Linked DNA regions of Homo sapiens: regions 1 and 2 are each linked to region 3. The links come from fine-mapping of genetic effects on gene expression. A gene starts in region 3. Each other region holds a variant in brackets. All regions are shown on one strand. Distances are from middle to middle. Region 1 overlaps SFSWAP (splicing factor SWAP). Region 2 overlaps SFSWAP (splicing factor SWAP). Region 3 holds the start of MMP17 (matrix metallopeptidase 17).

Region 1 (5,216 bases), 72 kb before region 3:
GTCATGCTGAGCAAGTCAGACAGGAAATGAAGGAGGTTGAACCATGCTTGCCGACTTGTTTTCAATATAACAACAACAACAACAAACTGCTTATTCTTTGTTATTTCTAAGAATTAGCTTGTGATTGGGGGGAAATGTTAATTAGTAGGAAAAATGCACCTTTTATCACTAAAATCCCCATTTTTCACTCTTGACAACAATCCTGTCTAGTTGACTTTAGTTTCTGTCGTGTGCATCACCTTCAACAAGAGCCTCCCCTAACACACTGTTTATAACTCACATGTCTCTCCGGGCATCTGAGGCGGTGAGGACCCCCGAGCAGCCAGGACTGAGCTTGGCGAGCCCCTGAAGCCCAGGGGTCTCACAGACTCTTCTCCTGCAGTGCACTTGCCCCCGTGGCCGCCATCATCCCCCCGCCCCCCGACGTCCAGCCCGTGATTGACAAGCTGGCCGAGTATGTCGCCAGGAACGGCCTGAAGTTCGAGACCAGTGTTCGTGCCAAGAATGATCAAAGGTCAGAAGAAGAATTTTATATGTTAGGTATATGGCATTTGGGGGTTTCGTTTAGCCTTTTTTTAAAAAAATGTAGGTACAGAATTAATTTTTTTATATATTTTTAAGCCTTTTCTTGGCTCAAATGTCTTTTTTTTTTTTTTTTTTTTTTTTGAGATGGAGTCTTGCTCTGTCACCCAGGCTGGAGTGCAGTGGCGCGATCTTGATTGACTGTAACCTCTACCTCCTGGGCTCAAGCAATTCTCCTGTCTCAGCCTCCTGAGTAGCTGGGACTACAGGCGCGCACCACCACGCCTGGTTAATTTTTGTATTTTGGTAGAGACAGGGTTTCACTGTGTTGGCCAGGCTGGTCTCAAACTCCTGACCTCAAGTGATCCACTTGCCTCAGCCTCCCAAAGTGCTAGGATTACAGATGTGAGCCACCACGCCCAACCAATGTCTTTAGATAAATACATTTTTTAATTGGCTTGTTAAATTGCTTAGACTTGGGTGGTGTTTTTAAATTATGTTACCTGTTTTTTGTTTCATTTTTTAAGTAGGAATTTTGAAGCTACCTAAAATAAAAGCCTATAATTCATGGTTTTCAAGAATCTGCCTTAAAAATCTAGACACAAACCCTTCTTTTTAAAAACCAAGCAATGTCCCACGCCTCAGTACTAATAAAACGTAAAGATATGTTGTCACATTTGCAGCGTGACCTGTGTAACCCCGGGCAAGCGATTTCGACCCCCTGTGTGCAGTCTCCCTCGTCTATAAGATGAGTAGCTAAAACAGTAACCACCTTGTGGGATTGTTGAGATCAGTAAAGAGCTAGGAGAACAGGGCCTGTTGTTACTTCAGTGAGCTTGTCTTGGTAAATGACCCATTTTCTTTCTTTTTCTGCTCAGATTTGAGTTCCTGCAGCCGTGGCACCAGTATAATGCTTATTATGAGTTTAAGAAGCAGTTCTTCCTCCAGAAAGAAGGGGGCGATAGCATGCAGGTACGTGTCTGAATGCAGGGAGGCTGTGAAGCTCTTAGAGGTGGCTCCGCCTTCCAGATCAGAAGTCGCTTTCTGTTTCTTCTCCTACAGGTGAAAGGGCTGGGTGATTCTTCACCTTTTTTTAATGTGTGTCTGGCATACTCCATCTTTCACGTCCCCCTTAGCTCTGGAACCTGATCTGTTGAAAGCATCTGCCCACGTTCACAGCATTGATGATTGTTTGTCCAGCACGTTCTAAACAAACAAAAAAAATCCTGTTCCTTCAACTGTTCGATGTTTTGGCCGTCTACAGTTACTAGCTACCTTTCATGACAGCCGGGTACCTTGCTTCTGTTGTGTTAACATGTATGAAATATATAAAATATAAGTGGGCGCCTCATGCCTGGCCAGCTGGTGCTGGGGGTGTCCTGCAGCACGGCCTCTGCCTGTGCCTGCACGCCCTTCCCCCTCACCAGATCCCCAGCGTGGTGCTGGCGCACTTGGAAGTGCTTTTTGTCCTACAGCCCCCTCTTCTGCCTTTGCTCTGCTCTTCTCAGTTATATAGACACCCTGACATTTTTGTAAAGCCAGTTTTGGTGAGGAGATGACATGGGCCTTACTTCTCAGGAGATTTCTTCAGACCCTTATCTCCAAT[A/G]GCCCACACTGAAAGAAACTGACTCCTCTGTAGGTGATGGGGATAATTTGGTATTTTTAAAGAATTCTGAGTAATCAGTGTCCAAAGAAAAGATACTGAAAATTGGTTCCCAAGGCAGTATTAGGGCTTCAAAGAGTATAGTGTTTTTTCAGACAGGAGAAAATCTTCCATTCCTCTTTGATACATTCCATTGTAAGAAAAAACAGCAGATCTGGATTTGGAAGTCTGTTCCCAGTGCTGCTTGGGCAGTAATGTACAATTGCCGTTGTCCAGTGAAACATATACCGTATACATCTCTCTTTTTTTAAAATTTCTGTATAATTTCCTGCTGACAGTTTATAGTGACATTTAATCTCTAGGCTGTGTCTGCACCAGAAGAGGCTCCCACAGACTCTGCTCCCGAGAAGCCAAGTGATGCTGGGGAGGATGGCGCGCCTGAAGACGCAGCCGAGGTGGGAGCACGGGCAGGCTCAGGCGGGAAGAAGGAGGCATCGTCCAGTAAGACCGTCCCGGACGGGAAGCTGGTGAAAGGTATGCTGCCACTTGCATGTTGGCCTTGCACATTCCACCATAAGTTGGCAAGCGTAGGATCCTCGGTGACCTCAGACTCAGCGCCCTCACCTGCAGGCTGGGGTGGGGTTGGCGGCCCCCTGGAGGTTGCTGTGGTGAAACCTCTGCCTTCCATGCTGTGTCATGCTTGCCTCGCGTGGCATTGGAGGTAACGTGAGTGTGAGCAGCCCTTAGGTATGTGTCTGTTTAACAGTCTGTTCAGTGTACTGGACATTTGTACAGAAAGTTTCAAATAATCCTTTGTACTCCCTGGGACTTCTGAAACTATTTATATGCAAACTGTTGTACCAGTGAAATTCATTTATTAATTTGTCAAAGCAGATTCCTTGAGAATCTCTACCAGGCAATACTTCACTCACTCGATTTCAGTTACTTTGTTATGTTCTTGGAGCAAGACTTTGATGTCACAGGACAGACAGGCATGTAAAAATACAAAGTCAGTGTAATTAAAAAGCAGACAGAAGCAAAGGCCAGAGCAGGCCCTTAGCCAGGAACCTCGTGGAGCAGCAGTGGGCTCCCCCCGCGGGAGGGAGGTTCTGTGGAGTAGAGGCGTTCAGCTGGTGTTGCGAGAGGAACGGGAAGCTCTGAGGCAGGGGTGCAGCCCTAGGCAGGAGCCCCGTGGTGCGAGCTGCCCGGCCCCGTGTTGAGATGCGGTAGGTGGTCAGCAGTGACTTCGGGGGTGGCTGGTGAAGGAGCCTTGGCCAGCTTGCCCCGGTGCACCCTGTCGGGGAGGGGCCAGCACATCTGACAGGCTTTAGGTCAGCGGAATAACTTTATCCAGTCTGGTGACTTTGTGATGCGGTTAAGCCACTGGAGCGACTTCAGAGATTTCTGGTGGCATTGGTGGCCTGGAATGGAGTGTGACAGGTGTGGCAGTGGGGTGAGGTGTGGCAGTGGGGCGAGGCGACAGCTCTTGGGTCAGAAGGAAAGGCAGAGTGGAGACAAGAGATTGAGGAAGTGGGCTGGGGTGATAAGAGGACCGTCCTTTGCATAAAGATGCCTTGTTGTATGAGAATGGTGATCATTCAGCGAAACCAAATCCATGTGGATGAACCGCTAACTAGGCAATTCACTATATGTGTCTTTGGGCCTCTCATTCGAGTAGGTTACCTGAGCACAAGTGATCCAGCTCTCACCCTTCCCGGCCACCCGCATACTCTCACTGGGATAATCAAAGGAATGTAATAAGTAGAGGAGGAAAATGGTTACTGCTCTAGAAACCCGGGGAGAGGTACTGTCTATAGGTCAGGGTAAGGCAGCATACCTGGAGCTTGCAGAGAAGTACCCTTGAGACTCAGGGCAGTGACTCCAGGGGAGTCGACTGTCAGCCACAGAGGGGCAGGCAGGAGGCTGGAACAAGCTGGGAGCTTCCCAGAGGCAGCAGTACCTCATCCCTTCTCACACCCCAGAACACAACCACAGCCCGAGCCTGCCTGCTGCCCCAGGGTTTGTGAGCCCAGGGAAGGCGCCTGACCCAGCCAGCTATGGGGTGTGCAGAGGGGTTGTGAGCCCAGGGAAGGCACCTGACCCCTGCCAGCTGTGGGGCCCGCAGAGGAGCAGCCCTGCCCACAAGGCTGCTGCCAACCAGCGTGACCTTCTCCACACTTCCCTGATTGTCCTAGAACCTGGCAGATGAAACAACACACCGAGAAGTTTACCGTCTACATCCACCCAAGCCTGAGACACTTGAACAGAGATCTACTCAATATCTGACAAAACCCATGCTAACTCTCAGTTCTCAAAAGCACAGGCCAGCCTCTCTTTGAAAAGATGCGGAGACAGAAATGTCATTGCGCCCACAGAGATTCCAAAGTTCGGGAGACACAGCTGAGCCTCCAGGCATATGGGCATCTCTGAAACAGACTCTTGCGTAACAGGAGAAAAATCTTTTAAGTCTCTAATTTGTATTCTACAAAATGGAAAATATTATAAAACTAGTGCTACTGGTAATCAGACATGGAAAAGATTGCTTAGAAATTGCTGTGGAGTGTGGTGGCTCACGCCCATAATGCCAGCACATAGGGAGGCCAGGGCAGGCAGATCACTTGAGTCCAGGAATTCGAGACCAGCCTGGGCAAATGACAAAACCCCGTCTCTGCTAAAAATACAAAAATGTAGCCGGGCATGGTGGCACATGCCTGTAGCACCAGCTCCTCACAGAGGCTGTGAAGTGGGAGGATCACTTAAGCCGGGGAGATAGAAACCAGCCTGGACAACATCGTGAGACCATGTCTCTACAAAAAATTAAATTAAATTAGCCAGGCATGGTGGCACCCATCTGTGCTCCCAGCTACTTGGGAGGCTAAGGTGGGAGGATCTTTTGAGCCCAGGAGACGGAGGTTGCAGTGAGCCAAGACCACGCCACTGTGTTCCAGCCTGCGTGACAGAGGAAGAAAATTATAGGTATCTTTTTAAGTACACAAGCTACAACTAGAAGTTAACACTAGAAAATAAAGTATATGAGAACATATATTATTTTAAATTTGAATGAATTTGAAAATCAGTGAAAAATATCGCT
Region 2 (5,216 bases), 27 kb before region 3:
AAGGATACTGGAGGGGTGGGCGCGGCGGCTCACGCCTATAATCCCAGCACTTTGGGAGGCCAAGGCGGGTGGATCACCTGAGGTCAGGAGTTCGAGACCACCCTGACCAATATGGTGAAACCCCGTCCCTACTGAAAATACAAAAATTAGCCGGGCATGGTGGCACACGCCTGCAATCCCAGCTACTCAGGAGGCTGAGGCAGGAGAATTGCTTGAATCTGGGAGGCAGAAGTTGCAGTGAGCTGAGAACGTGCCATTGCACTCCAGCCTGGGTGACAGAGTGAAACTCTTGTCTGGAAAAAAAAAAAAAGATACTGGAAGCAGATGCAGTGGGCACTTCTCAGTTCTAGAGTTGGGGTTCGGAGGTGGGGATGCTGTTCACTGGCCTTGGCTCAGCATCTTCACACGGTTGTAAGCTCTGCTCTCTCTCTCTCTGCATTAGGGGAGTCTCTCAGGAAAAAGAAGCCCAGATCTCTTCAGCAATCGTTTCTTCCGTGCAGAGCAAAATCACTCAGGTCAGTGGGCACGCCCCCCTCCCGCTCCCAGCCTTTCATCAAGGGGCCTCGTGGTTTCTCTGTTGCTAATTTTCATTCCCTGTCCCTCCTGTCCCTGTCATGGGACAGGGATCTCGGGCAAAATACCACAGGCTCTGGGTGAGGCCGAGGGCAAAGCCGTGTGGCCCGCACCCTGCACAGCCAGGCTCCTCCGCCGCCCCCACGGTGCTAGCACCGTCTGGTCTTGACCACCAACTCGTTGATGAATTTCTTCACCACGTGGGTTGTCTGGCCAGGTCTTCACAGGTTCTCCTCTGTGTCTCGCCCTGCACAGGATCTCATGGCCAAAGTCAGAGCGATGCTTGCAGCTTCCAAAAACCTGCAAACCAGCGCTTCCTGAGACGGGGCCAGCGGAGGCAGAGCCGGGAGGCTGCGTGGGCTTCTGGGCAGGCTCACGCAGACGCCGGCCACACCATCCACCTGGCCGCCTCCATGGACCCTTGGTGGCTTTTGTAAATTAATTTTTGATGACATTTTGAGTTTTAAGATTTCTGACCAGCAGTCTCTTACCTGTATATTTGTAAATATATCATGTTTCTGTGAAAATGTATTATGAAATAAAATGGGAGGAAACACCTTTTCTAGCTAGACCCTGGCGTGGTTTCTTCCTTCTCTCCTTGGTTGGCTTCTGGGTCTGTTTGACCGTCTGTCATCTGTTACACGTGTAGTCATGGAGGTGTGGCAGGGACAGGTGGGCAGCACTGGGCCTCCCTGTCCTGGGCCCCCAGCCCTCCGACAGCAGCCACTGGACTCCCCTTCCCCGTCTCCACGCCTCCTGCGGTCACCGCACACCCCTTCTTCCCAGGCCGTCAGCTCCCCGTGGGCATGTGTCCCTGCCGGCACCCATGCTGCAACTGCCGGACAGGCCCTCCCTGCGGCAGTGGTGCACAGCAGGGGAGCAGCCCAGCCCCGCCTCACCATGCTGAGCACCGCATGTTGCCTTGAGCGCCGGCTGCTTGCTCCTGGCGCCTTTCCTGACGTGCAGATGCCCGGGACTCCACTGCAGGCTTCGGCCCCCCAGTGGAAACACAATTTGTGTGTAGCTGAGGGTCCGGCCACCTGGAGTTGGGGCTCGTAAGGTCCTTACACCAGAAATGAGGATTTGCTGCTTGTCTGCTGTAGGCAGGTCACAGTGACACTTTTGTCCCCACAGGAAGGACACTCCCTGGCGTTCACTTAAACGCCTGCTGTGCCGAGGTCAAGTTCCATTGTCAGTTCTGCCAATTTACCAAAACCCAGAAATTGAATTACGGTTTTTCCTCCTTATGGCGCTTGGGGTCCAGACGCTGCCTGCCCGCGAAGGCCAGTGTGGGTGAGGCAGGTGGGCAAGCTGGGGCAGGTGGGTGGGTGGGGCCAGGCACACACACAGGCACAGGCCCCACAGCTGCCCACAACCACTCAGAAATGCTACAGGCCCTGGATGAGGCAGAGGGCAAAGTCGTGTGGCCTGCACCCTGCACAGCCAGGCTCCTCTGCCACCCCCACCCCCACGGTACCATATACCTGGTTCCTCTCACAACCAGTGGCCAACTTCATGTAGCACTCTATGCATCTCCCGATGCGTTGGTTTCTGAGATGACATCACTCAGGGTCCCCCCGCCCACGGCTTGCAGTAGCCATCCATCCCACAAATGCTCATCGGCCCCTCCGCACCTGGACGTGAAGCCGTCTCCAGGAAGACACTGGCTTCCTCCCGCAGCAGCGCACTGCGGTTCAGTGCAGGGCTCCCCAGTGGCTGCTCCGGGTCGCAGGTGGCCTTTGCTGCCGGGTCAGTGCTGTGGTGACCGTCCTCGGGCAGATGCTGCCCACATCCTCCTGGTGCAGCGTCTGCAAACATTTTTATCTTTGCTAAATCAGAAAGATGGAAAGGTCTTGATTTTTATTGCATTTCTTCAGTGATGAGTCAAATGGCACAGTTTCCCTTCTGTTTCAAAATGCGTTTCCATTGCTTTGTGAACTCAACCATGTCCATTCCTGTGTGTGGCGATGGAGTTCTTTTTCAATCATAACAACTCTCTACATGTTAGGGGACTTAGCCTTCTCGTATTAGTTATTTTGTAAATGTTTGCCCCAATTTGTCATCGCTGTTTTGACTTGAAGGTTTTTTTACATGGAAAAGTTTTTGTACGTATGTAGTCTTTTTTTTTTTTTTTTTTTTTTTGCCAAAAGCCTCGAGCACCTGATACTCCCAGTTGGTCTCCCATCCAAGTACTAACCAGGCCCAACCCTGCTTAGCCTCCGCAATCAGATGCAACCGGGCCCGTTCAGGCATGGCTGTTCGTGTTTGCCGTGGCCCGTGTTTGCCGTGGCTGTTCATGTTTGCCGTGGCTCGTGTTTGCCGTGGCTCGTGTTTGCCGTGGCTCGTGTTTGCCGTGGCTCGTGTTTGCCATGGCCCGTGTTTGCCGTGGCCCGTGTTTGCTGTGGCTGTTCGTGTTTGCCGTGGCCCGTGTTTGCCGTGGCTCGTGTTTGCTGTGGCCTGTGTTTGCCGTGGCTGTTCATGTTTGCTGTGGCTCATGTTTGCCGTGGCTCGTCTTTGCC[G/A]TGGCCCGTGTTTGCCGTGGCTGTTCGTGCTTGCCATGGCTTCTGGGCACTGCTCCTGAGGTGGGCTCTGTGTGTGCAGAGGTGACCTTGCTTTGCCTCAGGTTTGCGCCTCCAAGTTTTACACACCCTCCTTGTTTGCTGGGTCGTTTTCCACTGTAAAGGGTCGGGGATCATGAGCCAGAAATCTGCATCTTGATGCAGGGAGATCGTTACGTGGGACCGGACGTCAGCAGGATCGTGGTTCTACCCGTGCACCGCCAAGTGGACGTTTATGCCGGCGGCAGCTAGGATCGTCGGAGAGGGCAACACAGACTTGGCCAGCGTCTGGAACATCGGGGAATCCTGAGGGACCTACCACGCCCTGATATAGTGATGTTTTTGTTTGGTGCGTTGGTGCTGGAAGGGCTGGGGCACTTCCCTGGTAGAAGGGAGCAGGCATCAGTGCCTGGAGCAAGGAAGACTACGAAGACTACCCACCCAGCCCTCTAACCACTCGTCTCCAGAGTTGCCATTCATGATGGCCAGTGTCCCCCGGAAATGAGTACAGTGGTGTCACACTCTGCACAGACCCCCTGGTAAAGTCAACAGCACACATGCACTCTAAATACTGGAGCCAGGTGTGGTGCACGCAGTTGAGGTCCCAGCTACTTGAGAGACGGAGGCAGGAGGATCACTTCAGCCCAGCAGGTCGAGACTGCAGTGAGCTGTGATCACGCCACTGTGCTGCCGCTTGGGTGACAAAGGGAGACCCCATCTTTGTTTTGTTTTGTTTTGTTTTGTTTTTTTTGAGATGGAGTCTCACTCTGTCACCCAGGCTGGAGTGCAGTAGCATGATCTCAGCTCACTACAACGTCTGCCTCCCGGGTTCAAGAGATTCTCCTGCCTCAGCCTCCTGAGTAGCTGAGACTACAGGTGCGCACCACCACGCCTAGCTGACCCCATCTTTAAAAATAAAATACTGGGTCAGGCACAGTGATTTAATCCCAGCACCTTGGACGGCCAAGGCAGGAGGATCACGTGAGGCCAGGAGTTCAAGACCAGCCTGGGCAACAGAGCAAGACTCCGTCTCTACAACAAATACAAAAATTAGCCAGACGTGGTGACACCTGTAGTCCTACCTACTCAGGAGGCTGAGGTGGGAGGATAGCTTCAGCCTGGGAGGTCAAGGCTGCAGTGAGCCATGAATGAGCCACTGCACTCCAGCCTGGACAACAAAGTGAGACCCTGTCTCAAAAAAAAAAAAAAACTGTAAAATTAGACTTTGCATAGTGTATACAAGACACATGACTGTGTGTATGACACTGTAGTAATTCCTCACCACCGGCCAGGCACACAGTGGCTCACGCCTATAATCCCGGCACTTTGGGAGGCCAACGCAGGAGGATCGCTTGAAGCCAGGAGTTCAAGACCAGCCTGGGCAACATGGTAAAACTCTGTCTACTAAATTGCAAAAATTAGCCGGGCATGATGGCGGGCACCTGTAGTCCCAGCTACTCGGGAGGCTGAGGCAGGAGAATTGCTTGAACCCAGGAGGCAGAAGTTGCAGTGAGCCGAGATCACGCCATTGCACTCCAGCCTGTGCGACAGAATGAAACTCCAGTCTCAAAAAAAAAAAAAAAAAAAAGTTTTATCACCGCTAGGGACTGTTATGTTAAACCCCGAATGTCTTACTTTATTGGTGATTGAAGAAATTTCCAAGGGTGACTTTGGCTGGACCCCTCACCCATGTGAGATGCAACCCCACCCTCCCTGGGCCTAACTCTCCTGCCATGGACATCTAGACAGCTTCCTGCCTTTCACTGTCGGCAAGGATGCTGCTGGGAAACTAGAGTTTTTCCCCTTTAAAAAGATTCCTTCTGGGGCCGGGCATGGTGGCTCGCGCCTGTAATCCCAGCACTTTGGAAGGCCAAGGTGGGTGGATCACTTGAGGCCAGGAGTTCGAGGCCAGGAGTTCGAGACCAGCCTGGGCAACATAGTGAAACCCCATCTCTACCAAAAAATACAAAAATTAGCTGGGCATGGTGGTGCACACCTATAATTCCAGCTATTCGGGAAGCTGAGGCGGGAGAATCACTTGAACCAGGAGGAAGAGGTTGCAGTGAGCCGAGACGGCGCCATTGCACT
Region 3 (5,216 bases):
TCTCTCTTTCTTTCTTTCTCTCTCTCTCTTTCTTTCTTTCTTTTTCGTGGCAGGGTCTCGCTCTGTCTCGCCGGAATTCCTGTGCTTAAGTGATCCTTCCACTTCAGCCTCCCAAGTAGCTGGGACCACAGGCACACACCACCATGCACAGCTATTTTTATATTTTTAGTAGAAACATGGGTTTCGCCATATTCGTCAGTCTGGTCTCAAACTCCTGAGCTCAAGCGATCCGCCTGCAATTCAGCCTCCCAAAGTGCTGGGATTACAGGTGTGAGCCACCGTGCCGTCATGATTTTTCAGCGTTGCAAAGCTGATGGGAGAAGAGCGATTTCTTGCGGGGCTTGGATCTCAGCGGCTTTCAGATGTCCGAATGGGGTGGCAGGCTTGAAGGGAACACAGCAGCCATGGTGCCAGGCAGCTGCTTTGAGGAAGGTCAAATTCCCGATGTCTAACCAAGCATCTCCAGTTCACCAGCCGCCACCAGGCCTTTCTGGGGAGAACAGTGGCCTGCCTGTAAGGCCCTTCTCACATTTGTACATCCCAAGCCACTGTCGCCCAAGCTCCATAAACAAGCCATCTCCCTTCAATGCCAGCAAGCCCCGCGGTGAAGCCCCTTGCCAGCACCGAGCTACAGCCCCTCAACAGCGTCCTGTTCCAAGTCTCAGATGTGTATGAGCCCCATGATGCAGTGGGGGCACTGGCCGCGTTCCCTCTTCTGAGTCCTCGACCCAGCTTTGCCTGCCATCCACCCTCCCTTCCTCTGACTTCAGCACCTCTGATTTCCTGTAGAGAATCCCTTCCAGCCCAGGGCTTCAGCTCACTTCCCTGCCCCTGGCCCCACGATCAGGTCCTGACCCAGAATCCAGAGAGAGGTGGCCTTGGGACCATTGGTTGAGAAAGAGTCTGTCTCTGGCTGGGCCTGCTGAGGGGGAAGGATGCACAGGAGCTGCCCTGGGCCGTCTTTGCCCCACACAGAGATGGACTGAGAGAAACCGCGTTCTGACGCTGTTGCTGTGAGACTTGGTCCAGCCCTGCCTGACTTTGGCACACGCTAGGACGCCACCGTTTCCTGAGCCCATACCCATACGCTTCCTTTCCTTGACTACAGCCGCTTTGGCTGGGTCTCTGCTCTGGAAACCAGGTTGTCCTGATGCACTTGGTCAAAATCCCGGATGAGGCCAGGTGCGGTGGCTCACGCCTGTAATCCCAGCACTTTGGGAGGCCAAGGCGGGCTGATCACCTGAAGTCAGGAGTTCAAGACCAGCCTGGCCAACATGGTGAAACCCCGTCTCTACTAAAAATACAAAAATTAGCTGGGCACGGTTGTGCACGCTTGAAATCCCATCTACTCAGGAGGCTGAGACAGGAGAATCATTTGAATTTAGGAAGCAGAAATTACAGTGAGCCAAGATCGTGCCACTGCACTCCAGCCTGGGCAACAGAGCAAAAAAAAAAAAAAGAAAGAAAGAAAAAACAATCCGGGATGTCCTGTGAAAGTCCCCACCTCCTACAGGTGATCCCATCAGTCCGAACCAAGGTCATCTGAAGCAGGTGTGGAATCACCCTGTTCAGACCGGGCCAGGGAGGCTCTGAGGGCAGCAGGGACAGGATGGGCCAGAGTACCCAGGGAAGCGGGGGGGGGGGGGGGGGGGTGGTTGGGGGGAGTCGGCCCTCACAGGAGGGGAGGGGCACCACTTCCCTGAGACCAGTTCTGGTAAAAGGGGCCGAGCCTCAGTTTCCCTGTCCGTAGAATGAGACCTCAGTCCTGACAGTACCAGCTGCGATTTGGGGTGGTGGAGCAGGAGGGCCTGGGAAGGAGGGGAAGCCATGCTGTCCAGCACGAGGAGAAGCTGAATAAAGGCAAGGGTTACCCTTGAACCTCACCCCCTGCCCTCTCCCAAGATCTCCCACTCGGTGGGCAGCCTGTACGCAACTTGCACGAGTTCAATCCACACAAGCGCCTGCTCGGGCTCTGACCCTGGCTCTGCCGCTTGCCCGCTCCAGGACCTCCCATAAGTTACTTCATTTCTTTGGGCCTCAGTTTCTTTGTCTGCGAAATGGAAATCATAGTTTTCATCTCATAAATGTTGTAAGTAAATGAAATTATTTATGTAACTCCTGGGCATGTGCCAGGCACACGCTGCGCTCCAACAAACATTACAAGTTAACATTCTCGCTCCCAGGCCCGCAGGGACCGCAGAGCCTCCGCCGAGGACCCCAGCCCCCCCAACACCCGCCCTCGCCCTCCAGTCCCCCGCGCCCCCCAAGCCCCACCCTCCCTCTCCCGCGGTCCGCGGGCTCCACCAAGCGCCCACCTGCTGCGCTGCGGCGGCGGCTCCGGGGCCTGAACCCGGGTCTGAACCCGGGCCTCGGCGCCGTGGGGGGTGGACCCGGGAGCGCGGCCGGAGAGGGGAGTCAGGGTCAGCTCCCCGCAGGCGCCCCGACCCCCGCCTCCGCGCCCATCCCGCGCGTCCCCGCCGCCCCAAGAGCGTCCTAAGACACCCGGGGAAACGCCTTCCCTGTGATGCCGCGGACCCAGTCCCGTCGCGGACACGGCGGGGCGGGCGGGGGTGGCAGCGTCCGAGGCGGCGCGGGCCCTTTAAGGCGGCCGGCCTCGTTAGCATACATTTGCATGGCCCCGCCCCGCCGCTTGAGGCTGCCGCGCGGGGCTCAGTCCGGCGGGGGCGCCGCGGAGAGCGGAGGGCGCCGGGCTGCGGAACGCGAAGCGGAGGGCGCGGGACCCTGCACGCCGCCCGCGGGCCCATGTGAGCGCCATGCGGCGCCGCGCAGCCCGGGGACCCGGCCCGCCGCCCCCAGGGCCCGGACTCTCGCGGCTGCCGCTGCCGCTGCTGCTGCTGCTGGCGCTGGGGACCCGCGGGGGCTGCGCCGCGCCCGCACCCGCGCCGCGCGCCGAGGACCTCAGCCTGGGAGTGGTGAGCGCGCGGGCGGGACGGGCGCGGAGCTCCTGGGCCGGAGCCGGGGGTCTCCGCGGGCCGGGTGGCGGGGACCGGGAAGACCCCAGCAGTGCACGTCGGCGTCGCGCGGGAGCCCTGGCGCCCTGGACCCATTTCCTGGGTGGGGAGACTGAGGCAGGGACGCGGGCTGAGCGACCGGGCGAGCGCACGCGAGTCCTGGGGAGGCGCCGGCTGCCGTCCCGGCTCCGTGCGCTGGGAGCGCGCCGCAGCCGCAGGAGCCCGTGGAGTTGTGAGGGGGTCGCCCACCCGGAGCCCGGGTCGCCGGCTTGCAGCAGCCCCGGAGCAGCCGGGCTGGGCGAGAGCAGGCATCGCGGCCGCCCCGAGCTCTGCGCGCTGCGTGCGTTCCGGGTGGGAGTGGCGGGGGCAGGAGCACGCACCCACAAAGCGAGGAAGGGCAGGGGCTACGGAGTGGGGGCACCCCGAAAGCCTTGAGCCCCCGAGTTTGCTCGGTTGAGGGTGTTGGGGGCACAGGGATGCTGGCCCCCAGCTCCCCACTGGACAAGGACCTGGCCCTCAGCCTCCTTCCCCTCCACCCCAGGTCGGCCAGGCTGGCCCTGCCTTGCCCTGGTACAGTGCTGAGCCGGGGGCGCGGGGAGAGCCTTCCTCACTCCACACCCAGTAGCTGTCCCCAGCTCAGCTTAGAAACCCTGCCTGGGGGCAGCGACGTGGCCTCTTCCTACAGCCCCCTCCCCTGTTCCGCAGCCGGGACTCGCGTCTCCTGTGGACCCGGAAGATTTAGAGCACACGTCGTGGGGTCAGCGCCCCCCCGCTGGGGCGGCCGGGTGAACTCCCGCTGGGTTCGTTGGTTCCTTCTGAGGCTCCTGCCCCACCGCTGCCTTCAATGGACTCCTACCCAGGGAGTCGGGCCAGGAGCCGAGGCCTCCCCGCCCCACACAAGTACTCGGCCTGGCCCTCGTCCGCGGACAGTCTCCCAGTGGGGTCCTGGCAGGGCCCCTCGCCCAGCGCAGTGGACATTCAGGAGCTCCAAAACCTTGGGGTCCAAGCAAGTCAGCGCAGGTGTATTTCAGGCAGTCGAGGCATATGGAGGGGCCACTTGGGTGGCACCCGCAGCCCCTGTGGTTGGCAGGACTTGGCCAGGGGGTCTGGATGGGAAGCCGATTTGGCCACCGTTTGCCCCAGGCCCCGAAGCCATCTGGGAGGGTGCTGGCCACTGTCCCTGCTGCCCGCGTCCAGGTGCCTGCAGGTCCCCACAGTGGCTTCCTTCCAGCCAGGCAGCCTGTGAACTTGGGGTGCCCCCCTCCACCTCCTCAAGACCCTTTTGTAGGTGCGGATCTCCCGGATCCCCCACTGAGAATCACGCCCTGGGGGCCTGGGGTCTCCAGCTGTGGAGGGAGGTGAACCCAGGCCCGCCTTCCAGGTCCGAGGGTGCCGCAGAAGGGGCCGGGGCAATGCCAGGGAAGGACTCAAGGTGGGGCCCACACACTCAGGAGGATGGACCCCCGGCCGAGCCATGTTGGCTGATCAGACCCAGTGCGGTTTGGAAGTTTCTCGCCACCCACCTGCCCCCCTGCCCGGAGAGAGTGGGTCAGGCGCCCTCCTCTCGGCTGGTACCTGCGCCTCGGTCTCTCCTGGCACCCCGGGGGTCACCCGCCCCGCGCCCTGCGACAGCACCGAGCGGAGGATGTGGCTCCCCAGCCTGGCCGGGGGCAGTGAGTGGGGCCCCGGTGTCCAGCCGGAGAGGGAGGACGCTGCGGGCAGCCCCCTGCCTGGAGCCCCGCTCCGTGTCGGGCCCGGCCTGGCGTGGAGCCTCCGTCCTGCCGCGGCTTCCTGCTCACACTGGCGGTGCGGGGCGTCCTCTGCTGGCCCTCGGGGAACCGCGGGCCGAGCTCAGGCCCAGGGGCGGGCGGCTTCCCCGCGGGGAGGGACGAGGAGGCCGGGATCTGGGCGGGAGCGGGGACTCCTCCTCCGCCCGCTCGCCGGAGGCGCTCCCGGAGTGGACTGATATTCAGGTCTGGGCGCCAGGGACGAGAAGTGCTCCTTTGTCTCAGAGCTGCAGACAGAGCTGCACCCAGCAGGGCTGGAGCCGGGGCTGGAGGGGAGGGCCCGCCCCGGAGCGCCCCCCGTATGCACGTGAACAAGGCCGGGATTCAGGCTGCTGGGCTGCGGAGCCGGGCTTTCAGGAGCCCCCGGCGGGGACAAAAGAGCGCACTGTCCCCCCGGGGGTCCTTGGCGGGGCTGCTTGTCCTTGTGGGCCTGAGTTTTTTGTCTTTCTGTGTTTTG

The links. PIP is the estimated chance that this variant, and not a neighbour inherited with it, causes the effect. A credible set is the group of variants that fine-mapping cannot tell apart.
Region 1: its variant is the best candidate, but not a certain one, in a credible set for the expression of MMP17 in aorta (GTEx, PIP 0.65).
Region 2: its variant is the best candidate, but not a certain one, in a credible set for the expression of MMP17 in lung (GTEx, PIP 0.55).

Annotation. Positions count from the first base shown.
Region 1 is chr12:131,753,986-131,759,201 of GRCh38, forward strand. SFSWAP (splicing factor SWAP) reads left to right here. Exons shown (of 18, transcript NM_004592.4): 9 at 383-514; 10 at 1,401-1,494; 11 at 2,488-2,659. Among named protein-coding and RNA genes, the nearest start is that of SFSWAP, 46 kb to the left of the region's middle. The variant A/G (reference allele first, on the strand shown) is at 2,129.
Region 2 is chr12:131,798,595-131,803,810 of GRCh38, forward strand. It overlaps SFSWAP (splicing factor SWAP), which reads left to right. Exons shown (of 18, transcript NM_004592.4): 17 at 443-515; 18 at 829-1,144. The coding sequence ends at 894. It also overlaps the pseudogene RNA5SP378. Among named protein-coding and RNA genes, the nearest start is that of MMP17, 27 kb to the right of the region's middle. RefSeq lists an enhancer at 1,736-2,585. The variant G/A (reference allele first, on the strand shown) is at 3,093.
Region 3 is chr12:131,825,721-131,830,936 of GRCh38, forward strand. MMP17 (matrix metallopeptidase 17) reads left to right here and starts at 2,673. Exons shown (of 10, transcript NM_016155.7): 1 at 2,673-2,933. The coding sequence starts at 2,775. RefSeq lists silencers at 2,538-2,667, 4,657-4,916 and an enhancer at 4,400-5,009.